Linked DNA regions of Homo sapiens. The protein of the gene in region 3 interacts with the protein of the main gene of each other region in a pairwise test. Each region holds a gene or a part of one and is shown on either strand. Other genes may lie near its edges.

Region 1 (7,000 bases), on a different chromosome or scaffold from region 3:
GTAAAATAATTTTCACAAAAAGTTTAATGCATCAATGTGATGTGGAATTATATATGTATTTGTGTGTTTGCCTCTGTGTGTGTGTGTACATACGAGTTTGGCATTATATCAACACATATTTGTGTGTTTTGAAGGAATTGATATTTTCTTAGATGATGCCAGTGGCATCCAAAAACAGTTTAATAATTAAAGGTTAATTTTCCTCCAGGGAAATTCCCAGTGGGATTCTGTGAAACTTCAGTTGACAAACTCAATGTGCATTTCAAACATGATATGATATGTGTTTCATATCATGTTTGATTATGTTAAGACTCTTGAGCATGTTTTCATTATCTCTTTGCTTTTCTTCCTTGAAAAAATATATCTTGGGGCCAGGAGCGGTGGCTCACGCCTGTAATCCCAGCACTTTGGGAGGCCGAGGCAGACGGATCACGAGGTCAGGAGATCGAGACCATCCTGGCTAACATGGTGAAACCCCATCTCTACTAAAAATACAAAAAATTAGCCGGACAAGGTGGCAGGCGCCTGTAGTCCCAGCTACTTGGGAGGCTGAGGCAGAAAAATGGTGTGAACCCGGGAGGCAGAGCTTTCAGTGAGCCGAGATGGCGCCACTGCACTCCAGCCTGGGTGACAGAGTGAGACTCTGTCTCAAAAAAAAAAAAAAAAAAAATCTATCTATCTATATCTTGTGTGAAAAATTTTAATTTAGTTACTAATAAAATTTTATACAAATACAGGACTCTCATGGCCAAACAACTGCCCTCATAATAGGGCTTATCACCCTCTTTAGGATTCCTACATATACAAGATTATTACTAACATGACCTAATATTTATTAATTCACTCATTATCAATTAATTCAATATCAAGTACTTGTGCAAGGATAAATAACATGTGCAAGATTATAGGAATAATTCAGTGGCAGCATTGTGATCTACATTTTTTTTGTTCTGGGGCTAGGTGATTCATTCTTTTTAAGAATTACACAAAGCTGAACTTGACTGTCAGCAAACATTATAGCCAAAATTTTGGCCAAAAATATGGGCTCCAGTTTTTTTTTTTCCTTTTATATATTTTGTAAGAACTATTAGACATTTTTAATAGTATTTTCTGTCAGGATGGCCATAAAGGACCTCCCTAAGCCATGAAGGCATAATCTGTTCTCCCTCTGCTTCAGGAGTGAACTGAACTCAACCATCTGGCATTGGTTTAGTCGGATTCTCTTTCTGTGATGGCAAGGCCAGTCCAAGCCACCCTGGAAGAATGAGTGATTTTGTCCCCTTTAAAGGATGGTTCTTTAAAACGTTGTCCACCTGGGTGAGCTCTGTGATGGGAGGGCAGAGGGAGGCTCCCTGGTGGCTGTGTTGGCTGTGCTTTAATTTCTCCTCTACTGTCACTAGTCATTCAGCTTTGGCTCCAAAGTTGTTACCTCAAACCCACCCACTTGCCAAAATCAATACTCACTTCTTTAGATTAAGTAGGTAGTTTAAAACCCTCCTTTGTGACTTAAATTTTCTCTTTGATGAGAAGGGGAAGGAGAAGTCATGTGGGGGTTTCCAATGACTTCATAAAACCATTCCTTCCAACATAACCCACTGTCTTTGAGAGGAGTTCTGATAAAGATAGTTTTCTCCATCCTGTTAAATGCCCCCCATTCTTTGGTGGCTCTATAGCTTAGCACCATGGGCTGCTGCCCAGCCAGCCTGGCCTCAAGCCAGCCCTAGGTCGGGGAGTCCACCATGTTCATCAGGAAGGAGAGAAGGAGAGTCAATGGACTGTCTCTTCCCTCATCGAACTCATGAAAAGGGTCTAGCCAATGAGGTACTCAGGGCCAAACTCACAAAGATCAGTGCAAGTGCTGCAACTTGTAACAACTTTGCTCTGTAAGTGTCTTGAGCTCCACTTACAGGAGGGGGCTATAAAAATAGCCTCCTTGGGTTTTTCATATATATTGGTTTACGCACCCATGGTATGGTGAAGATTATGTTAAGATACAGAAAGCCCAGATTCTGATTCCAGCTTTGTTAATTAACTTGGTGTGCAGCATTCAGGAAGTCACTGGGCATTGGCCTCACGGTGCTCCCTCAGCCCCATGCTGATAGTCTATAATTGGCAGTAGTGGGTATCGGGAATTACTTAAATAGCTAGGTCTTGGGGGTTCCTCCTCCACTTATTTTCTTAACTGTATTTGGAAAACTTTATTACTCTTTGAGATTCTCACTCTCAATTACTAATTCATCCAACAAATTTTTAATGAGAACTTACTATGTGCCAGAAACTGTAAACCAAAGAGACAAAATTTCATATTCTCCTGTAGCTTGCATTCTATTCCACTTTTTTCCCAAGGAATAGTGATTTACACTAGAAATGACTAGAAGTTAGGCAATTTTTCATTAGCTTTGCTACCAGCGAGCTAATTTATCACTGAAACTATTCTTTCAGGGGTTTTTCAAGTTTTCCTTAGTTCAACTTTTGGGGAAAAATATTTTAAACAAATGCACTTTGTGTCAGCTCAGATATTGCTAAAACTATCTTCAGAAAACTAACTTTTAACATAAATCTTAAAAACAAACACCTCTATCAAGATTGTCATAGCAATTTTGCTTTTCCAGTAAAAATTTTAACCCATTAATGATATGCAGTGTTTTAAAGGAAGTAAAATGCTCCCAGTCCTAATTACAAGCATCCAGTTTCATTTTGCATGAGCCTAAGGATCACAGAATTCTTTTTTTTTTTTTTTGAGACCGAGTCTTGCTCTGTCCCCCAGGCTGGAGTGCAGTGGCGTGATTTTGGCTCACTGCAACCTCTGCCTCCCGGGTTCAAATAATTCTCCTGCCTCAGCCTCCCTAGTAGCTGGGATTACAGGCACCTGCCACCATGCCTGGCTAATTTTTGTATTTTTACAGAGACGAGGTTTCGCCATGTTAGCCAGGCTGGTCTCAAACTCCTGACCTCAGGTGATCCGCCTGCCTCGGCCTCCCAAAGTGCCTGGATTACAAGCGTGAGCCACTGCACCCGGCCCACAGAACTCTTTTTATACTACTATGGTGCTCAATTGTGTGCCTGAGTTTTTGTTCAGACACTGTCTCCAAATCATACAACACTCAAATGAGGGAAAGTGGGAACTATAGTGTTTGTTCCCTCAGCATCTGAGGGGGACTGCTTTCAGGACACCCTCTTGGATACCAAAATCTGCAAATGCTCAAGTCCCTTACAAAAAATGGTATAAATTTGCATATGCTCTGAATCATCTCTGTATTACTTATAATATCTAATACAATGTCAATGCTGTGTACATAGTTGTTATACCATATTGTTTAGGGAATAATGACAAAATAAAGTGTACATGTTCAGTACAGACACAACCATTCATTTTTTTTCAAATATTTTCAATCTGCAGTTGGTTGAAGCCATGATGTAAAATCCATGGATGTGGAGGGCCAACTGTGTTTAACTTAATGAGTCTCTTTAAAGAATTAGATGAATCTAACAGCTGGAGTCCAGAGGTTCAATGTCCTTTTTCTCACCGTCAATGATCATTTATTGATTGATGCTAGGCATTGTAAGAGGATATATTGCTACTAAGAATGGCTATTTAGTAAGTGCTAGGCATTGGCCTAAGCACTTTAAATACCTTATCTATTAATACTTACCAACCATCAATGAAGCAACTCATTTTACATATGGAGAACCAGAAACTTAGAGAGGTTAAGTAACTTTTCCAAAGTCATGCAACTACTGAATGACAGGTTGGCATTGGGACCAGATTGTCAGATGCCCAAGCCCATTCAGGCTAACAATAGGTTCTCTCTCTGTTGTAAGCTAACAGGCTAACCGGGAAGATCAGTCAAAACACGTAAAATGATTCAAGAACTAATGAACTGAGTAATGTGTTACTACTGTCTCTAAGGACAAAAGGAGGTCAGAGAGAAGAAGAACATTTGGTTGAAGTCAGAGAAGGTAGTTCCTGAGCTGGCAGATTCAATTCCACTCAGAAAGCTTTGGTTGAACATTTATTTGAATGATTGATACTGTCAGAGATACAAATCGGAACAAAATATGCCCCTTCTCTGAAAGTGTTTTTAACTCCTTGAAGAAGAAAGTTAGTACACAGAATCTTATGATACAGGACACAATGGGCAAGTGCTAAATTGCCACAAACCTTGGAGCAAGGAAATACATAGGCTCAGAATTGAGGGAAAACTCGTGAGAGCCGTGGCTTTTGAGCGAGGTGCTGAAACTGGAGTAAGACAAGTAGGTAAAGCTCAGAGGTAAGATGGGAGAGCACGAAGAGGAAGTAGAGAGCAAAGGAAGGGCCACGCGGCGCAGTTTATAAAGCCTGCTCCAGAGGCGAGGCAAGGCTGGAAATAGGTGTAGGGCTGCACCTGGACATCTCGGAATGCTAATCTAAGGAGCGCAGAATCCATTCTTTACAGTGAGGAACCTCCTGTGACTCTTCAGCCTGACAGTAGCAGTGATGAAAGGCGGGAAGCGGGGTTGATGACCGAGGCAGTGCTGTGGTGAGGGGTGGGGAGGGTCTGCATGGTGGTGAAGGAGGTGGTGGGCACCAAGACAAAGAGAGGACGATGGGGGACTGCGTGAGACCTTGCAAAGGAAGATGCAGTAACTCAGCTTAGAAGTGCTGAGTATCCATCGTGTGCTAGGCCCCGGGATATCAAGGAATTAGGAGATGCCCTCGGGAGATCCAGGTGTAGCTGGGGAAGGAAACAGATAAAGAAGTTCAGCGGGATGTGGGAATGAATATGGTAGTGATGTGCACTGAGGGCTGGAGTCTGATCGGGTAGCCGCTGGGAGATGGGACAGGGAAGCACACACTTGCCTTGAGGTTCAAATTAGATAACGTACATCATTTGGAAATCGTTTACCAATAAGTCGTTATTGGGATCTATATTCTGGATGTGTTAGATTTGAAATATACAACCTCTATCAAGGTGTGACATCGGGAATAATATTTTTAACATTGTTCACAAGTACCTAGTATAGTGCTACGCCGTTGGAAGCCTGGGATCACAAGCTGTGCTTTTGGGCAATTAAATACAACAACCTATTCACTCATTCATTCAACAAATACTGATGGAGGGGCTCCAGTGGGCCTTGGGGTATAGACAAGAAACAGGGACTTGGGTCCATCCACACAGTGCAGTTGAGTGGGAAGTCAAAACCAACACGTGAGAAACGGTGGATGCCTTGGTACCAAAGTCATGCACCGTATCTTGGGTGAACGAATAGAACAATACTGCTTGCACTTTTACAGCATTCTACTGGTGGAAAAGTATTTTACAGACGCGATTCTCTTAACCCTTTCAGCAAAACTGCCCAGTGAGTCCCCGGCCCTGGCCCCGCCTCGCACGCGCTGGTGCTACAGCTGTGGTGCAGACGCCCTTCCGCTGCGAGGGTGCGGCCGTCTCGGGGCGAGTGCTTCCCGGCCTGCAGGAGGCGAACTCGGGCTTCCCCGGGAGGCGTCCGTGGGAACGCGCACCTGCGAGTCCCTGCCGGCTGAGGAGCCGAGGTCTGCGACCTCTGCCGACCTGAGCTCAGGCGCAGCAGCGCAGACCTGGCCGCCGTATCCCCTCTGGCTGGGATGCGGGCCCACGCGGGAAAGGCTGAAAGGTGGGGAACACCCCGGCGGAAAGGAACCCTCCCTCTCTGCTCTGAAGGAAAGTTTCCCAACACAGCCATGTTCTTGGTGGTCTCCGGTCCCCCATCCCCAAGCCCCCAGTCAGCCTCACACTCATCCGCTTCAGTAGCCGCGGAGTGGGGGCCTCCAAAGAACCCAGCTGCAGAGCAAGTCCGGCTGACGCAGTGTGCGCTGGGGGCGGGGCTCTGGACGGGGGCGGAGCCACGGCGAGAGCCGCGGTGAGGGCGGGGCCCGGGTGGGCGGTGCCCTGAGCGGGGCTCCTAGTGGGCGGGGCTCTGGGGTGGCGGCCGTTGCCGGGCTACGGGAGAGCGCGGAGCCCTGCGCTGGGAGGTGCACGGTGTGCACGCTGGACTGGACCCCCATGCAACCCCGCGCCCTGCGCCTTAACCAGGACTGCTCCGCGCGCCCCTGAGCCTCGGGCTCCGGCCCGGACCTGCAGCCTCCCAGGTGGCTGGGAAGGTAGGTGCGTCGCTGTCCCCGGCGCGCGGCGTCCCGCGAGGTCTTCAGCCCTCGCCCTGGTGGATCCCCGCTGGGTGGGAGCCGGGAGTGGAGGCGGCCGCCCTAGGGAGGGAGGAGCGCAGGCGGGGGCTGCTCACGGGCGGAGTACTGCGCGGCGAAGGGAACCCCCGAAGGGGCTGACCGGGTCTCGGGGCCGTGACAGGCGGCGAGGCGGTGGGAGGGGAGCGTGTGAATTCACGCCGGGTCCCCGCGGGCGACGCGAGCGACGCGACCTGGACTCCTATCCGGGATATTGTAAATAGATCTGCTTGTGAGGCTCACGACTGGGAGCCTGTCACTCTGCCCAAGCCCGACCCGGCCCCGGCGCCCGCCCGCGTCCTGCGGAGGTCCCCTGAGCCAGCGCGCGGCTGCAGGGGTCTCGGGGCCGCATCCCGGACCAGCGCCAGCGGCGGGAGAGCGTTGTCTGTGAGCGGCCCAGGGTATATTCCTTCTGTGGGAAAGAGTTCCTTAGAGTTCAGCAGGAATTATTAGTATATTGATGAGTAGAGCCTGTGATAGATTTAGAGAGTGAGAAAGCCAGCTCTTACAATGCGTGTAATGCCATCTCATGGGACAGAAATTTGGCTAATATACTCCTGGAGATCAAGTTTGGCGGATCAAAATTCTGTGATCTGTTTTGATGGTAGTGCACTAGTCATCCAGTCTCCGTTCACTATTGTAAGAAACCCATGTCATTTGTTTGCATGTTAATAAAGGACTCAATATGCATACAAAATCATCACCATTGTTCAGTGTTTCTTTTAACTGAAACAGTTTAACCCAAGATATGTATGAAGACGTAGTTTTTACCCCATGACAGTTTCTTTGACTACAAAACCAAAC
Region 2 (7,767 bases), on a different chromosome or scaffold from region 3:
AGAGACCCCCATATCTACAAATTATAAAATAAAATTAGTTGGGCATGGAGGCATGTGCTCATATCCTCAGCTACTCCATCGGCTGGGCAGAAGGATTGCTTGAGCCCAGGAGTTCGAGGCTGCATTGAGCTATGATTGCACTACTACACTCTAGCCTAGGTGACAGAGTGAGACTCTGACTCAAAAAAAAAAAAAAAAAAAAAAAAGGGAGAGAGAGAGAAAGAGACAAGCTGAGAGGAGGAAGGTAGGGTGGGAGGTGTGCTGCAATGCCACAGAGACAGCTGGGCTGATCAGAACAGACGCCTAAGGGAGAGAAAAGTGCAAGGTCCAGGTACAAGCTCCACTATGGCCAGTCCCTGCCCTCAGCTCTGACAGGATACAGAAGAGCAGAACCCCCAGAAGCTGCCTTGCGATTTTTCCCTGCACAAAAGGAAAATGTGGGGTACTTTCTGCAGCCTAAGAAGTAGCCAAAGCAGGAAAAGGGATGCTCATGTATCCCCAGACTTGTCTGTTCCTAGAACTTTCTGTTACCTAGTTTAGTCATGGCCTTATAGTTTCTCTTCATATACACATAGCTGATTTTCTCCGAGTATTTCATCTTTTTCCACTCTTTCTTAGAGAAGTATGTGGCAATATCATCAAAGGCCTAAAAAAAATAAAATAAAATTTGTCAGTGACTCAGCTAGGTATGTCTGCCATTCAGCTGGAGCCGCTTCCTGTGTGCTGGATCTGGGAAGTGAGGATGATAATCCGTCCTGGTTGATGCCATGGCTAACTGAGAGACCATGGGGGACCTACCCTAGCTTCTCCCGTGGCACACATTAGGGCTTTAATGCTGCTGTCTGGCTCTCTTCCCACCTTCCAGAATGGACTGAGAGTTACCAAATGTAGAGCAAGGTCAGAGACTTGTCTCCAGGGATGCTAGGTGATGACAGAACACAGGTGGGAGGCTCCCAAGGGTCCAGATCTCCCCCGAGACCCTGCTCCTTGTCCCCAGTACCTCTGTCCTCCCCTCCTCAGAAACCTGGTCACCCTACTCTGTCCCCTGGACCACTGCTCTGCCCCCTCCAGGTCACGTCACCTTGCTTCTCTTCTCTGATGCTTTAGCATCATCCCTGGGTCTCTTTGCAAAGGTGTCGTCTCCGTTCATGGCACCAGGAGCAGTCTCACCTGCAAGAGAAACAGCCTGAGACTTTCTAGCTACAGGACCCTTGGTCCTATGGAGGGAGAAATCAGTGAAGCCCGGCCACACTCAGTCACCTGGAATTAGGGGTTGCATTTCTCCATTCGGGGCTTACCTGTCCATGGGTAAGGACATGGAGAGAAGTCAGATGAAAACAGGGAGCCTGGAGTCTCTGGGAGAAGTATTGCTTGGGGATGACAGGTTTCCTAGCAGCCTTGAGTCTTTGGGAGGGGGTTGGCTAGTGTTGTTAGTAGTTTCCCTGGGGCTAGGCTTACCCTGAAAGATGTACAGACCCTTGCTGGGGAGGCAGGGACGTGACTGTGTAATTTTATTGAATGGGGGCGTTCTGACACCCCCACTCAATAAATAAAGGGAGGGAAGTGAGTCCCAGACATAACGTGGTCTTTCTGGTGATGGATCTGATCAGGCAGAGGGATGGGGGGGTTCTGTTCTGTTGAAGAGAAATGACCTTCACTAATATGAACAGATTTAGAAGCTATTACTGGGTTATTTGTAAATTATTAGAAGGAAGAGAGCTAGAATCTCTGAGATTACAAGAGCCTGCCATCACTTAGAGAAAATGTGGGGTGTTTCAATTTGCAGCAATCGGCCAGGCGCAGTGGCTCATGCCTGTAATCCCAGCATTTTGGGAGGCCGAGGCGTGCAGATCTCTTGAGCCCAGGAGGTTGAGACCAGCCTGGGAAACATAGCAAACCCCTCATCTCTACAAAAAAAAAAAAAAAAAAAAAAAAACAACCACACAAAAAATTAGCTGGGGGCGGTGGCACAGGCCTATAACATCTCAGCTCTTTGGCCAAGGGGGGGCGGATCGCTTGAGCCCACGAGGTTGATACCAGCCTAGCCAACCTAGAAAAACCCTCTACTAAAAAAAATAAAATAAAATAAAAAGTATTAGTGGGGGCGGGGTGGTGCTCGCCTGTAGTTCCGAGGCCGAGGCAAGAGGATCTCTTGAGCCCAGGAGGTTGAGGCCAGCCTGGCCAACATAGCAAAACCCCATTTCTACTACTAATAATAACAACAAAAATAATAACATCAGCGAGGTGGTTCTTGCCTGTAGTTCCGAGGCCGAGGTGGGAGGATCACTTGAGCCGAGGAGGTCAAGCCCAGTTCGGCCAACATAAGGAAACCCTGTCTCTACTAAAAAGAACAACAACAACAAAACTAGCAGGGGCGGAATGGCACACATCTGTAGTCCTGAGGCCAAGGTGTGAGGATCGCTTGAGCCCAGGAGGTTGAGGCCAGCCTGGCCAACATAGTGAAACCTGGTTTCTACTAAAAAAAAAAAAAAAAAAAGCATGGGCAGGATGGTGCACTTCTGTAGTCCCAGGGCCGAGGCGGAAGGATTGCTTAAGCCCAGGCGGCAGAGGCCAGCCTGGCCAACATAGCAAAACCGTCTGTACTAAAAAAATAAAAAATAAAAAAAATTAGTGAGGGTGGGGTGGTTCGTGCCTGTAGTCCCGAGGCCAAGGCGGGAGGATTGCTTGAGCCCAGGCGGTTGAGGCCAGCCTGGTCAACATAACAAATCCCCGTCTCTACTAAAAAAAAAAAAAAAAAAACAGGGGTGGGATAATACAGGCCTGTAGACCCAAGGCCGAGGCGGGAGGATCCTCCATGATGATCGTCCTGAAAGGCATTAGTTGTCTTTCAGTCCTCAAGATTTTCGGAACCCCAAGCACTTGACGGCCCTACAGAGGCTTCCTCCTTTTCTATCTGCCCCGATTAGCCCATCTAGGGTGTCCCTTAAAGAGAACCTACTTCAGAGACAAAGCAGTGGTTGCGAGGTCGGCAGCAGTGGTGGCGAGTTGGCAGCAGTTGGTGACAAAGTGTGGCTGGAGGAGGAGAAAATATTCTGCAATGTCATTGCTCCAGGATGATGGACCAATCAGGGCAGTTAGTGAACTCCATCTGGCCAATCAGAAGTCAGAACAGTAGGCGGGACAAGCCAAGCTGATGTGGGGTCTATCAGTCTAGGCTCTAGGGACAGAACCTTCTCAAAATGGAGGCAGAAACTCTGACTTTCCCGCCTAAAGCATCCCCTGGGATTGGCTACTCCAAGTTCAGAGTACGCATGCTCTGATTTTCTCTTTGGAGTCTTCCCAAATCAGAGTACGCATGCGCTGATTTTCTCTTTTCATTTTTCCTATCCCTCCCCACCTCCTCGGTGGTGCATTGTTATCCAGTTTTAATAAGGAGTGTATATGAAGCAGGTCATCATCTCAAATCCTTCCTGTCAGTTTCTATCTTTTTCAGGTATGGGATTTTTTCCTAGGAACTCTGTAGTGACGTAAGAAATTTGGGCCGGTGCGGCGGCTCACGGTTGTAATCCCAGCACTTAGGGAGGCCACAGCTGGAGGATCACTTGAACCTGGGAGGCAGAGGTTGCAGTGAGCCATGATCATGCCACTGCACCCCACCCTGGGCAACAGAGCAATACCCTGTCTCTTTTCTCTACAAAAAAAATAAATAAAATTAGCGAGGTGGGGTGGTGTGCCTGTAGTCCGTTACTCAGGAGGCTGAGGTAGGAGGATAGCTTGAGCCCAGGAGTACGAGGTTGCAGTGAGCCATGATCTGGCTACTCCTGCCTACCTGGGCCACAGAGCGAGATCTTGTCTTTAAAAAGAGAGAGAGAGAGAAAGAGAAAGAAAGAAAAATTTCAATGAGCCAGTCCCAGTGGCTCATGCCTGTAATCCCAACACTTTGAGAGGCTGAGGCAGGAGGTGGAAGGATCACTTGAGGCCAGGAGTTCCAGAACAATCTGGGATACATAGTGAGACCCCCATCTCTATAAAAAATTTTTAAAAAAGAAATTTAAACAAAAAAAAACACTTCTACACTTCCATATATGTTTTTTTCTAAAAGACCAAAGAAGCAGAAATATATTTTACCCATTGATATTAATAATATTTATAATAATAGTATTAAAAAGAGTATGTAATTAGGGCCCACTGTGTTCATCAGGGAGCTCATAAGTCAATTTGTCTAAGAAGTTTCCCCTACCCCCATCCCTAGTACCTCCAACAAGTCCCCATTCCTCTCTGGGCTTTCCACCTACAGCCCTGATCTCTCTAAGATCCTCCCAGGATTACAGCAAGCTCTCTTAGGGCAGGAACAGAGCAATGGCCCTTGAGCCCAGCACAAAGCCTTTTATGTGCATCTTCCCATTAATTTTCACAACCTTCTCTGGAGTTAAATACTATTATCATCCCCAGTATGCAGATGTTGAGACTGAGGCTCAAGAGAATTAAGCAGTCTGCTCAAAGTCACATAGTCAGTGGGTGACAGAGCTGGGATTCACCCCCAAGATAGAATTGAGTCCAAAGTCTGTGCTTTTATTTATGTATTTATTTATTTTTAATTAAAATAATTTTTTTTTAGAGATGGGGTCTTGCTATGTTGTCCCTGCTGATCTGGAAGGAACTGCTGGCCTCAAGCAATCCTCCTGCCTTGGCTTCCCAAAGCACTGGGATTACAGGAGTGAACCATCCCACGCCCGGCCTCAAAGTCGGTGCTTTTAATTACTCTTCTATATTGCCTCGACTACTTGTTGAATGAATGAATGCATCTTACAACTGCAAAGGTTCTTTAACATAATTTACATAACTCCTTACAATCACCCCATATTCCCTCTGACTGCTGTAACAAATTACCGCAAACTTTGTGGCATAAACAACATCAATTTATTCTCTCACAATTCTGGAGCCCAGAAATCTGAAATCAGTTTCACTGAGTTGAAATCAAGTTGTCAGCAGGGCTGTAGTCCTCCAGAGGCTCTAGGAGAGAACCTGTTCCTTGCCTCTTCCAGCTTCCCGTGATTGCCAGCATTTCTTGGCTTGTGGCTTGATATGGATTGGCTCTGTGTCCCCACCCAAATCTCATCTCGAATTGTAATCCCCACAGATTACAAATCCCCACGGGGGTGGTTTTCCCCATGCTGTTTTTGTGACAGTGAGTTCTCATGAGGTCTGATGGTTTTACAAGCGTCTGGCATTTCCCCTGCTTGCATTTCTGTCTCCTGCTACCATGCGAAGAAAGTCTTTGCTTCCTCTTCACCTTTGGCCATGATTGTTTCCTGAGGCCTCCCCAGCCATGCAGAACTGTGAGTCAGTTAAATCTCTTTCTTTTATAAATTACCCAGTCTCGGGCAGCTCTTTATAGCAGTGTGAGAAGGGACTAATATATGGCTGCATCACTCTAATCTCTACCTCCATGGTCATTGCCTTCGTTTGTTTTCTGTTACTATAATGGAATACCACAAACTGGGTAATTTATAAAGGATAGAAGTTCATTTGGTATACAGTTCTAGAGGCTAGGAGTCCAAGAACATGGCGCTGGCATCTGGTGAGGGTTGTGTCATGATGGAAGGATGAAAGGCAAAAGCAAGTGCAGGAGACAGACAGAGAAAATGTGACTAAGCTCCCTTTTATAACAAACCCAATCTCGTGATAACTAATCCACTCTTATGATAATGGCATTAATCACTTCCTAACAGCCCCACCTCTTAATATTGTTAACAATGGCAATTAAATTTCAACACAAGTTTTGGTGGGGACGTTCAAACCATGGCAGGCTTACTGCCTTCTTCTCTTCTGTCTGTGTCAGATCTCCCTGCCTTAATCTGATAAGGACACTCATTATTACATTTAGGGCCCACCCAGATAATCCAGACAATCCAGGAGAATCTCCCCATCTCAAGAGCTTTAACATAATTACTTTTTTTTTTTCGAGACGGAGTCTCACTCTGTTGACCAGGCGAGAGTACAGTGGCATGATCTTGGCTCACTGCAACTTCTGCCTCCCGGGTTCAAGCAATTCTTTGCCTCAGGCTCCTGCATAGCTGGGATTACAGGTGCCCGCCACCATACCCAGCTAATTTTTATATTTTTTTTAGCAGAGACGGGGTTTCACCATCTTGGCCAGGCTGGTCTTGAACTCCTGACCTCGTGACCCACCCGCCTCGGCCTCCCAAAGTGCTGGGATTATAGGCGTGAGCCACCACACCTGGCCAACATAATTACTTTTTTTGTTGTAAGCTAACACTCACAGGTTCCAGGTGTTACTATGTTGCTATCTTTTGGAGGGGCGTTGTTCAGTCTACCACAGCCTGCCCTCTGGCCCCCAAGTATTCACATCTCTCCCACATGCAAAATACATGCACCCCATCCCCAAATCCTCAAATGTCTCAAACCGTGCAACATTAGCTGAAGTCCAACATCTTATCCATATAAGATCAGCTCAAAAGTACCAAATCTCCTCATCTAAAACAGATATGGATGAGACTCTGGTTATGAAACATCCTGGGGCAAAATTCTCCTGCCGTGAATTTGTGACACTAGAAAGCAAGTTATTTATTCCAAAAATAAAGTGGCGAGACAGATGTAGGATAATAGTTACAGATATTTCTATTTCAAATGGGAGAAAATGGAAGGAAGGAGTTGCCACTTCCAACCATTTTGAAATCTAGCAGGACAAATTCCATTTGGTTTCAAGGACTCAGAATAATCCTCTGTAGCTTGAAGCTCTCCCCTCTCCCATCGCCCTCCTCTCAGAATGTATGTCATAGTGATTCACACCTTTAGACCAGCAGGTCCTATGTGTATCTTCCCAGATAATATCATTTCTAGACTGGCTATGGCTGAGCATAGTGGAAGAGCTCCTTGAGTCACGTGCCTAATCTCTTCAGCACTAGCAAACATGGCCACATTCTTGACTTTCTCTCTAGAGGATACCTTCCTGACAGTGCCTCTCCTAATTTTAGTGTCTTTTGCAATCTTGATAGGCTTAGAATTTCCCTGGATCCTTTTTGTTTAACAGTCCTTTCCTCAGTTTATCCTTTTCCTCTAACATTTTACTAGAACTTGAATTGGAGTCCAATATAAAAATGAAAAATTATGGGACTAAGACTGGGGATAAAAAATGATGGAATCTCTAGGCAAGTTGCTGAGGGTTTATGAAGGATGAGCCTTGGGAATGGAGTCTTATATATGATCAGATTGGTTGTGATTGAAAAGAAATTGTTCATCCGTTTATCTAAAAATCGACCATTAGTGTCAAGGGTGCAATGAAGCAGGGCGAGTCTACTCCTCTCGTTTTGAATTAGGTTTTCTTAACATGTTGATCTGTTTTTTCTTTATCTTTTAAACAATCAGTCTAAAAAAAGGGGATTTTGTGTTTTAAGATAGTTTCCTAACTGCATTTATTAGGTTTTGGTTTTTGTTTTTGTTTTCTGAGATGGAGTCTTCCTCTGTCGCCCAGGCTGGAGTGCAGTGGTGGGATCCAGCCACCGTAGTAAGCAAGGTTGCTTACTGCAACCTCCACCTCCCAGGTTCAAGTGATTCTTGTGCTTCAGCCTCCTGAGTAGCTGGGATTACAGGTGCCCACCACCACGCCCGGCTAATTTTTGTCTTTTTAGTAGAGACGGGGCTTCACCATGTTGGCCAGGCTGGTCTCGAACTCCTGACCTCAGGTGAGCCGCCTGCCTCAGCCTCCCAAGGTGCTGGAATTACAGGCGTGAGCCACCATGCCCGGCCTTTTGCTGTTGTTGCTGTTAAGACAGTTTCACTATT
Region 3 (7,904 bases):
GAGCCAAGATTACGCCACTACACTCCAGCCTGGGCGACAGAGCAAGACTGTCTCAAAAAAAGAAAAAGAAAAAAAAAGTATGGCATAGAGGGGTTAAATAACTTTCCCAAGGCACACAAATACGGGGAGCTGAGGTGCAAACCCAAGTAGTCTGATCTACAGCCTGTGTGCTTAACCACCACACCACACTGCTTCCTAGACAAGTAAAAATTGCCCCAGGAACATGAAGGCAGAGACCCTATTTGTATTCTAGATAGCACTGGCCTGGCACAAAGTAAACCCTCAATAAATGTTTGTTGAATGAATGAATGAATGATGTGGAAATACTTTTGTAAATTGAGAAATGCTCATGTAGACATTCTTATTGCTAAGTCCTTCAACTAATAGAAATTCCATTGATCTCACACTTTTGTCTAATGCTTAATACATTTTCCAGGGAAAAAGAAAAGAACTAAGGCAGGACACTTATTAGAGGCAAACAGTAGCTTGACAAACCTGGCCTGGGACAGATTCAAGAGGTCCGGCTAGGAAAACTCCCGAGGTTGGCATCTTGTCCATTAGAGCCTCCAGAACTTGGAGAAAGTTCCATTCTACCCAAGGAATCATCTGCCCACCCCCATCCTCTATCTTTCTATCTATTCTATTTAAATTGTCAGTTTACATGACACTTTCAAGCATTTTTCTCATGCAGATGGGAAAATATTTAAAATCTGGGTGGCCTCAAGAGAAAGGCCTGATACAAATAATATAATACTTCTTACTTCTGAACGATGGTTGGATACACATATTCATGGCAAGAGAACAGCCTTTTGTCTTCCTGGCCCACTTACTGTCTTTGGAGTCATTTCTTTGGGTATGGCCTGGGCGGTCCCAGCAGGAAGGCTGTGTGGGCTTCTCCCCAGTGAAATCCAGAACCATGAGCCATTCTTGCCCTGTTTCACACGGTCAGGAGGGAGAAAGGGCGCTGGCAGATGAAGGAAGCCCAGAGCTGGAAGGGACCCTAGCCAAACCCTAACATTTTACAGTCAGCTGGATTCTGGTGCCCTTTCCACTGTATCCTGGGGGCTTTCTCACACTTTTGCAATGGAGTGAATCCCTTTTTAATGATCTCCCACTCCTTCCAAAAAGAACACTTATTTACTTACTTTACCTACAGTTAAGATGGGCTTACAGGCATTAATATTATTGTTCAGTTGGCTCTTCTGGAGGTATTCTGATTAGCCCCATTTTACAGGTGGGAAAACCAAGGCTCTTTAAAAAATGAGACAAGCTCTAAATTCTGGGAAACCCCAGGTCTCTAACCCCAAATTTGTGGGGCTCTTGCTGTGTGTTAGGGACTATTCGGTGCGTTACCTATATGAACGCCTGGGTGCTGGCATTATTATACCTATTTTTTTGGATGTGGAAACTGAGCTCAGGGTGGGTATTTGAGCACAGTCACAGAGCCAGAACTCAAATCTGGCTGTCACACAAGGCCATCCCTCTTCTGGAGTGCCACTTGTGGAATGCCCAGGTGGATCCCTGCCCTCCTCAGGGGGTGCGTGTGGGCGGAGGGAATGCTTTATCGGCCAGGCATACATAAGCCTTCACCTCTCCAGGACCAAGAAAGGCGGTCTTGCAGTCTCCCTAACTCCTTCGCGAACTTCCCGTAGGTGGTCAGGGCGCTCGGCGGCAGGACCACGGCCCAGCTTTGTCTCCCCCACCTGAGGAGCGTGCACCAGGCCGCGCCCCGCACCACCCCACCTCCGCCCACAAGGCCCGCGACCACACGGTCACCCGCGCCCACGGCCGCCTCCATCTTACATTTGGGGATCATTATTTATTCCCCGACCTTGGAAACACTTCATGAGCACCGTGCTCGCCCTACTCCACCCCTCCCACCCCGACTCCCCTGCCCTCCGCATCCCCTTCCTCAACTGCCAGAGTCGGGATCCCAGGTGGGTGCAGGATTCAAAGTGGAAGGTTTGGACACCGCAGTCCCAGTTCCCGGTCCCTCTGAGCCGGGGCTGAGGGGATTCCCCGTCATCTGGAAAAGCCAACGGGCTTCAGCAGGGCCAGGGCACCGCCTCGGCTGGAGAGAACCCGCCCGGGCCACACACACCTCTCGGGCAGCTCAGAGAGGCAGCGAGGGCAGCGCGGGGGCAGGGGGAGAGGCGTGCCGCGTGTGCGCGTGAGTGTGCGCGTGTGAGGGTGAGGGTGTGAGCATGTGTGTGTGTGTGTTGGGGTGTATGCGCAGGCGCGCGTGCGTATTAAGATCCGGGGTGTAATTCCGCAAAGAAGGTCCAGGAGATCGGGCATCGCTAGTATGGACAGAGCTTTGTGTCCAAACAGGCAGTGCAAGGACTAACCCGCGAGGGCGGGGAGTGGGGTTCTCCCGGGAGGGGCAATGCGAGGAGCCGAGGCTGGGCACCGGAGGGGAGCGGGATTCCTATCCCGGACGGGACGCCTGGATGTGGGAAGCTCCGGACCTGGGCTCCTGCCGGAGGGTCCGTGCGCCCCAGACCCGGCTGGTCCGACGCGGGTGACACCCACACCCCAGGGATGCTCCATGCCAGGCACCGCGCACGGGCCGCGAGGTCGGGTTCCCGAAACGGCGCCCGCAGCAGCGGGGAGAGGAGTGGCCTTTAGGGGGACGCCACACCTCCCGCCCCGACCCGGCTCCCCGGATCCTCCGGGCGCCTTGCCCGCCGCCCACCGGGCCCCACCCGGGCAGCGGAGCCCGCACCGCCCGGCCCGGGGCTTCCCCGGCGGAGCACGCGGGGCGCGGGGCGCGGGTTACGGCCCCCCACTCTGCGCCCACCGCCGCCCACCGCGCGGGAGCTCGGGCGCAGGGACGCACCGCCGCGTCCACACTCCCGCCGGCTCCGGCGGTCCCTCCTCCAGGCACTCACAAAATTGTCGCCGCAGCCGTTGTCCGGACACAGCACATAGAAGGAGACGCCGGGGTCGGCGTAGAAATCCATCCTGCGTTCGGTCTCCTCGGTGGCGATGAGCTCGAAGGGCGTGTTGGAGCACCATTTCTCCGCAACGTCGGCCAGCTGCTGGAAATCCATCGCGGCCCCGCGCCCGCCTCCCGCCGCCGCCCGCCCTCCCGCTCCTAGGCGCCCTCCTCCCGGGCGGGCAGCGCGGCGCTCGGCTCGGCCTGCGCGGGCTCCTCCGGGGCCGGGCTGGGCCGGCTGGGACTGTTTACATGCGGTGCGGAGTGGGGCGGGCGGCGGCCGGGGACAGCGCGGCGCCGCGCCCGCGGCTCCTCCTCCGCCCCGCCTCCCCCCGCCCCCTTGCGGGCCGCCGTGGGGGTTGGCGCGGCCGGGCCGGGACGCGGGGCGGCGGGAGGAGCGGCCGGCACCCCCGCGGGCGCCCGGATTTTCCTGGGCGCTCCCGCCCCCCCTTTATTTTTAAACAAACCCGGAGCATCCCGGGGCCCTGGCCATCGCGGTGCCGCCCCGGGCCGTGACGTCATGGGCCCCAGCCAATCACCGGAGCCTGAGACCGCGCCGCGGCTTGCGAGCCCGGTGACGTCACAGCGCGAGCCTGGAATCCGCAGCTCCGCGGGTTACCTGGAAGCGGTGCGAGCGCCCAATACCTGGTTAGCGTTTCTGTGGAGTTAGAAAGCCCAGGAAGCGTTTGCCCAAATGCGATTTAAATGCAAGGGAGGCCATAGAACTGCAGATAACTTGGACCTTGTCTGGGGCTAGCAGTGGAGGAGCTGAGAAAATCTAAGGAAAAGGGAGCTTTTCTTTTTGCAGAAACCAAAGTTCTGTTCTCCGATTGATTTAAGGGAATGTGTCTTCTTAATGCATTTATCAGACACTAATATGAATGTTCACTTGCAAAGGGCGTGTGTGATTTTTTATTTGCGTTACGTAAAGCTGAATATTTCTTAGAAATGAGCCTCATAAGACTGGCTTCAGTATTATTCAGCTTGAATTCACATTGCATAACCTAAAAAGGTCAAGAGGATAAAGCACATTTTAAAACAAGAGTGTGTGGCCCAACGATTGCACCTGTTGAGTGCTCACTGGCTGCCATATACTGGACAGGCATTACTGGATTGCAGAAAATGCACTAGGGTCCTCGCCCTCAGGACTTGAACACTACAAACACAGACACGTTATAAACATTCAGCCAGCTTTTTTCTGTAAAGTGTGTCTTCTGAACCAGGCACTGTGCACGAATTTACATTCCCACCAACACGTATATATGTTTCCTTTTCTCTGCACCCTCACCAACATCTGCTGTTTTTTGACTTTTTAATCATAGCCATTTTGACTGGTGTGAGATTGTATCTCATTGTGGTTTTAATGTGCATTTCTCTGATAATTAGTGGATGTTGAGCATTTTTTCATATGTTCGTTGGCCACTTGTATGTCTTTTTTGAGAAATATCTGTTCATGTCCTTTGCCCACTTTTTAATGGGTTTTTTTTTTTTCTTGTTGAGTTGTTTGAGTTCCTTGTAGATTCTGGATATTAGTCCTTTGTCAGATGCGTAGTTTGCAAATATTTTCTCTCATTCTGTAGGTTGTCTATTTACTCTGTTGATTGTTTCTTTTACTGTGCAGAAGCTTTTTAGTTTAATTAAGGCCCATTTGTCTATTCTTGTTTTTGTTGCACTTCCTTTGGGGTTTTAGTCATAAATTATTTGCCTAGGCCAATGTTGCAAGGAACTGAATTCTGCCAACAACCCGAATGAGCTTGAAAAGCAGATTTTTTTCTCAAACTTGTTGTCTTTTCCAGACAAGAACTGAGCCTGACTATTACCATGATTGCAGCCTTCGCAGAACCTGAGCGAGAACCCAGTGATGCCATGGCTGTGCTGGGACTTCCGACTTTCAGAACTGTGGGCTATTAAATGGGTGTTGTTTTAAGCTGTTAGGTCTGTTTAAATTCTTCATGCAGCAGTAGAAAACTAATACACAGGACAATGAAGGAGACAGGCACATGAATATAAAAATGCAATATGCTGTTGTAAAGTTACAAAATGGTCCTTAAAAAAAAAAAGTATGGGTGTCTCCAGATAGCACAAGCTTCCTTGCAGTTTTACCTGGCACCACCATTTAAAGCATAATATGTGTTCCAAAAATGAATTCCTTAAATTGGAGATGAAAATATGAAAAATACATTCCTTTTTTCCTTTTTCGGGAAAGAAGGAGTTTTTTTTTTAATCCATGTGTTTTAAAATGTATCAGTCAAATTTGCTCCAAGTGATGTGATCAGAATTATGAAGTTATGTTTATTTAACAAATAGTTTTTGTCAGAAAATGAAAAACTCTTATGAAAAATAAAATTTTGGGTACAAAGCAATTGGTCAATGAAATGGATACCGTTGGGTTTCCTTAGAAATGCACTGAGAGCAACAGCAAAAGCTTCAGAACTCCATGTCTGCATTGATTCCTCCCTCTGCCATTTTAAGTTTTATGTGCATCTGCAACTTCCTTCATTGCTCGGAGCTCAGTTTTCTTTTCTGAAAACAGGGACAACAGTGAGATAAAGTATATAAAGTCCTTATCCCAGAACCTAGCACATAGTAAGAACTCAGTAAATGCCATTATTACTCTTAATCTACTTCTTAGGGATGATGTGTAAGAAGATCAGCTAATGAATTTTTAAAGTGAAATTCAGGAGTGATATGACTGGTAATATTGGTCACAGATGAACCTAAATCTCATTTTTTTTTCCAAGTCTTTAGAGCAGGGTTTCTCAGCAGCAGCACTATTGATATTTGAAGCCAAAAATTCTTTGTTGTTGGAGGCTGTCCTGCACATTGCAGGATTTTTAGCCACATTCCCTGGCCTCCACCCACTGGATGCCTGTAGCATCTCCCTCTACCCTCCCCTCTCTCCACTGTGACAAGCAAAAATTTCTCCAGACATTGCCAAATGTCCCCTGAGTGCAAAATTACCCCTACTTGAGAACCACAGATTTAGAGAGAAAAGTCTTGCAACAGTCGTGTTTTGGTCATTTTTACTAACTAGTGGAAAGGGTATGCACATAAAGCAGCTGAAATTCATCCTGGAAAGTTCATCTGCAGAAGTTGCTTGAAATTTTGTTTCCTTAGAACAACTGGTAAAGCCACCAGTTGCTTAGCTAAGAAGATCATAAACCTTTGCCCTGCCTCCCTCCTGTTTGGGGAGAGTCCTGTGAGGCATCCCAGGTTGTAGGGGTGTATTTAGGCCTCATGCACAGGGCAGTGGTCATTTCAGAACTCTAGCCAGGTGTTTTGTGCAGCCAGTAGGTGAGGAAACACCAGGGCTACCCATACCCCCTTTCTTGTGTTCCCATAGCCTTTGGCCATGGTTTGGAAGTAGAAGGAAAATTAAAACTTCTCCCCAGCCAGGCGTGGTGGCTCACACCTGTAATCCCACCACTTTGGGAGGCCAAGGTGGGTGGATCACCGAGCCCAGGAGTTTGAGACCAGCCTGGGCAACATGGTGAAAACCTGTCTCTACTAAAAATACAAAAATTAGCTGGGCATGGTGGCATGTGCCTGTAGTCCCAGCTACTTGGGAGGCTGAGGTGGGAGAATCCCTTGAGCCCTCGAAGTCGAGGCTGCAGTGAGCCATGATCACACCACTGCCCTCCAGCCTAGGTGACAGAGGGAAACCCTATCTCAAAAAACAAAACAAACAGACAAAAAAACTTATCCCCACCAGTAGGCAGAGTTGTACAGTCTTCATTGTATTTAAGGAACGTTTCTGTTCATTTATAGAAATCTGGACTTTGCTGTCTCTGAAAATCACCATTTGCCTTTGGGAGATGTGTGTTGGCAAGAAGAGGAGACATATTCAAACCCCACTGGCTAGGACATCAGGAGCTCAGTATGGAATGCAAAGGCCACCCTAGACTGTCCTGCTAATGCTGACTCTTCTGCCCATCTCTGTTTTGAAGTTCTCCATGGCTTTTATTCTAGTGTAAGTTTGATGTTAACATATAATTTGACCTTTGATTCACTCCTATATTGTAAGTCCGTTAAATTAGCCCTAGTTTTTGATAAATCTGCTCCATCCACATAGCCTTGTGGTTATGCAGTAGGAGGAGGTAGGCAGAGAGGGAAGCGTAGCTGGTTCCACATTCACCCTTCACCTGAACGCAAGGTCGTCTCATTGTATCAAGAGGGACTGTAGACCCCAGGTTCCAGGAGACGGTGGTCAGGAGAGAGGTGTTTGATTTGTCACAGTTGTGATGGGAGAGGTGAAAAGACCATAGGATCTGGAGAAGTAACTCCCAGGAGAGCAACACAGGAGGGATGAGAGCTGTCTTCTCCCTGCACTGTGCTCCAGAACAGTGAGCCCAGCAGTGGGGCGGGGAGGATAAGTAGAGGGCAGACATGAGTTAAGCCTGCGCCATAGTTTATGTGTCACTGCAACTAGAGTCTGAAAGAAAATCAAGTTGGAAGATCAGCGAAAAGTTGAAGATCTATATAAATGAGTCATTGTGATTTACCCCAACTGCCCAGTAAAGCTCTGGAAAAGGATTTCCTTCAGCCTTCCTACAAAATTCATTCTGAATTTTGTTTCTGAATCTTCCAAACTTAGTTTTTACAAAATTATTTCTTTTTTGGACATTCCTCTGAAAGGTTTGGATGTAGAATTTGAGCGAGTTGGGGTTACATTTTGGCTACAATTGCCTTCAAAACATGCCTAGCTGATCACATTCACCTGGTAAACATTTTCCTTTTATATATATCAAAGAAACAGAAATACTTATGATTTAGTTTTTAGCTTCTTTATTCATTTGAACACTTCAATATTCTGTCTTCTTCAATGATTCCCCCTTGCCCGTATTTTCAGCTGGAACAGTTTCTCATTTTCCCTATTTCTGAACACTTTCAGGGGCTTCCTTCAGTGAAGCCCAACACACAAAACGTCCCTTTCAGCAAAATCTCAGCGGTGGTGCTAAGGGACTAA

What was found. Proteins that work in one complex are often made in the same cells at the same time.
Region 1: the proteins of MTURN (region 3) and TNFRSF19 interact in binary tests that used the Homo sapiens proteins (3 or more experiments, as listed by UniProt).
Region 2: the proteins of MTURN (region 3) and SSX1 interact in binary tests that used the Homo sapiens proteins (3 or more experiments, as listed by UniProt).

What each region holds. Positions count from the first base shown.
Region 1 is NC_000013.11:23,573,412-23,580,411, forward strand, and holds part of TNFRSF19 (tumor necrosis factor receptor superfamily member 19 isoform 2 precursor), read left to right. Parts: intron 1-5,948; exon of another isoform or gene 5,949-6,118; intron 6,119-7,000. UniProt on the Homo sapiens protein: Can mediate activation of JNK and NF-kappa-B. May promote caspase-independent cell death.
Region 2 is NC_000023.11:48,250,625-48,258,391, reverse strand, and holds the start of SSX1 (protein SSX1), read right to left. Parts: upstream 3,001-7,767; 5' UTR 2,960-3,000; intron 2,342-2,959; exon of another isoform or gene 2,256-2,341; intron 1,171-2,255; 5' UTR 1,151-1,170; coding exon 1,082-1,150; intron 647-1,081; coding exon 532-646; intron 1-531. UniProt on the Homo sapiens protein: Could act as a modulator of transcription. Plays a role in spermatogenesis.
Region 3 is NC_000007.14:30,130,286-30,138,189, reverse strand, and holds the start of MTURN (maturin), read right to left. Parts: upstream 3,205-7,904; 5' UTR 3,054-3,204; coding exon 2,892-3,053; intron 1-2,891. UniProt on the Homo sapiens protein: Promotes megakaryocyte differentiation by enhancing ERK and JNK signaling as well as up-regulating RUNX1 and FLI1 expression. Represses NF-kappa-B transcriptional activity by inhibiting phosphorylation of RELA at 'Ser-536'.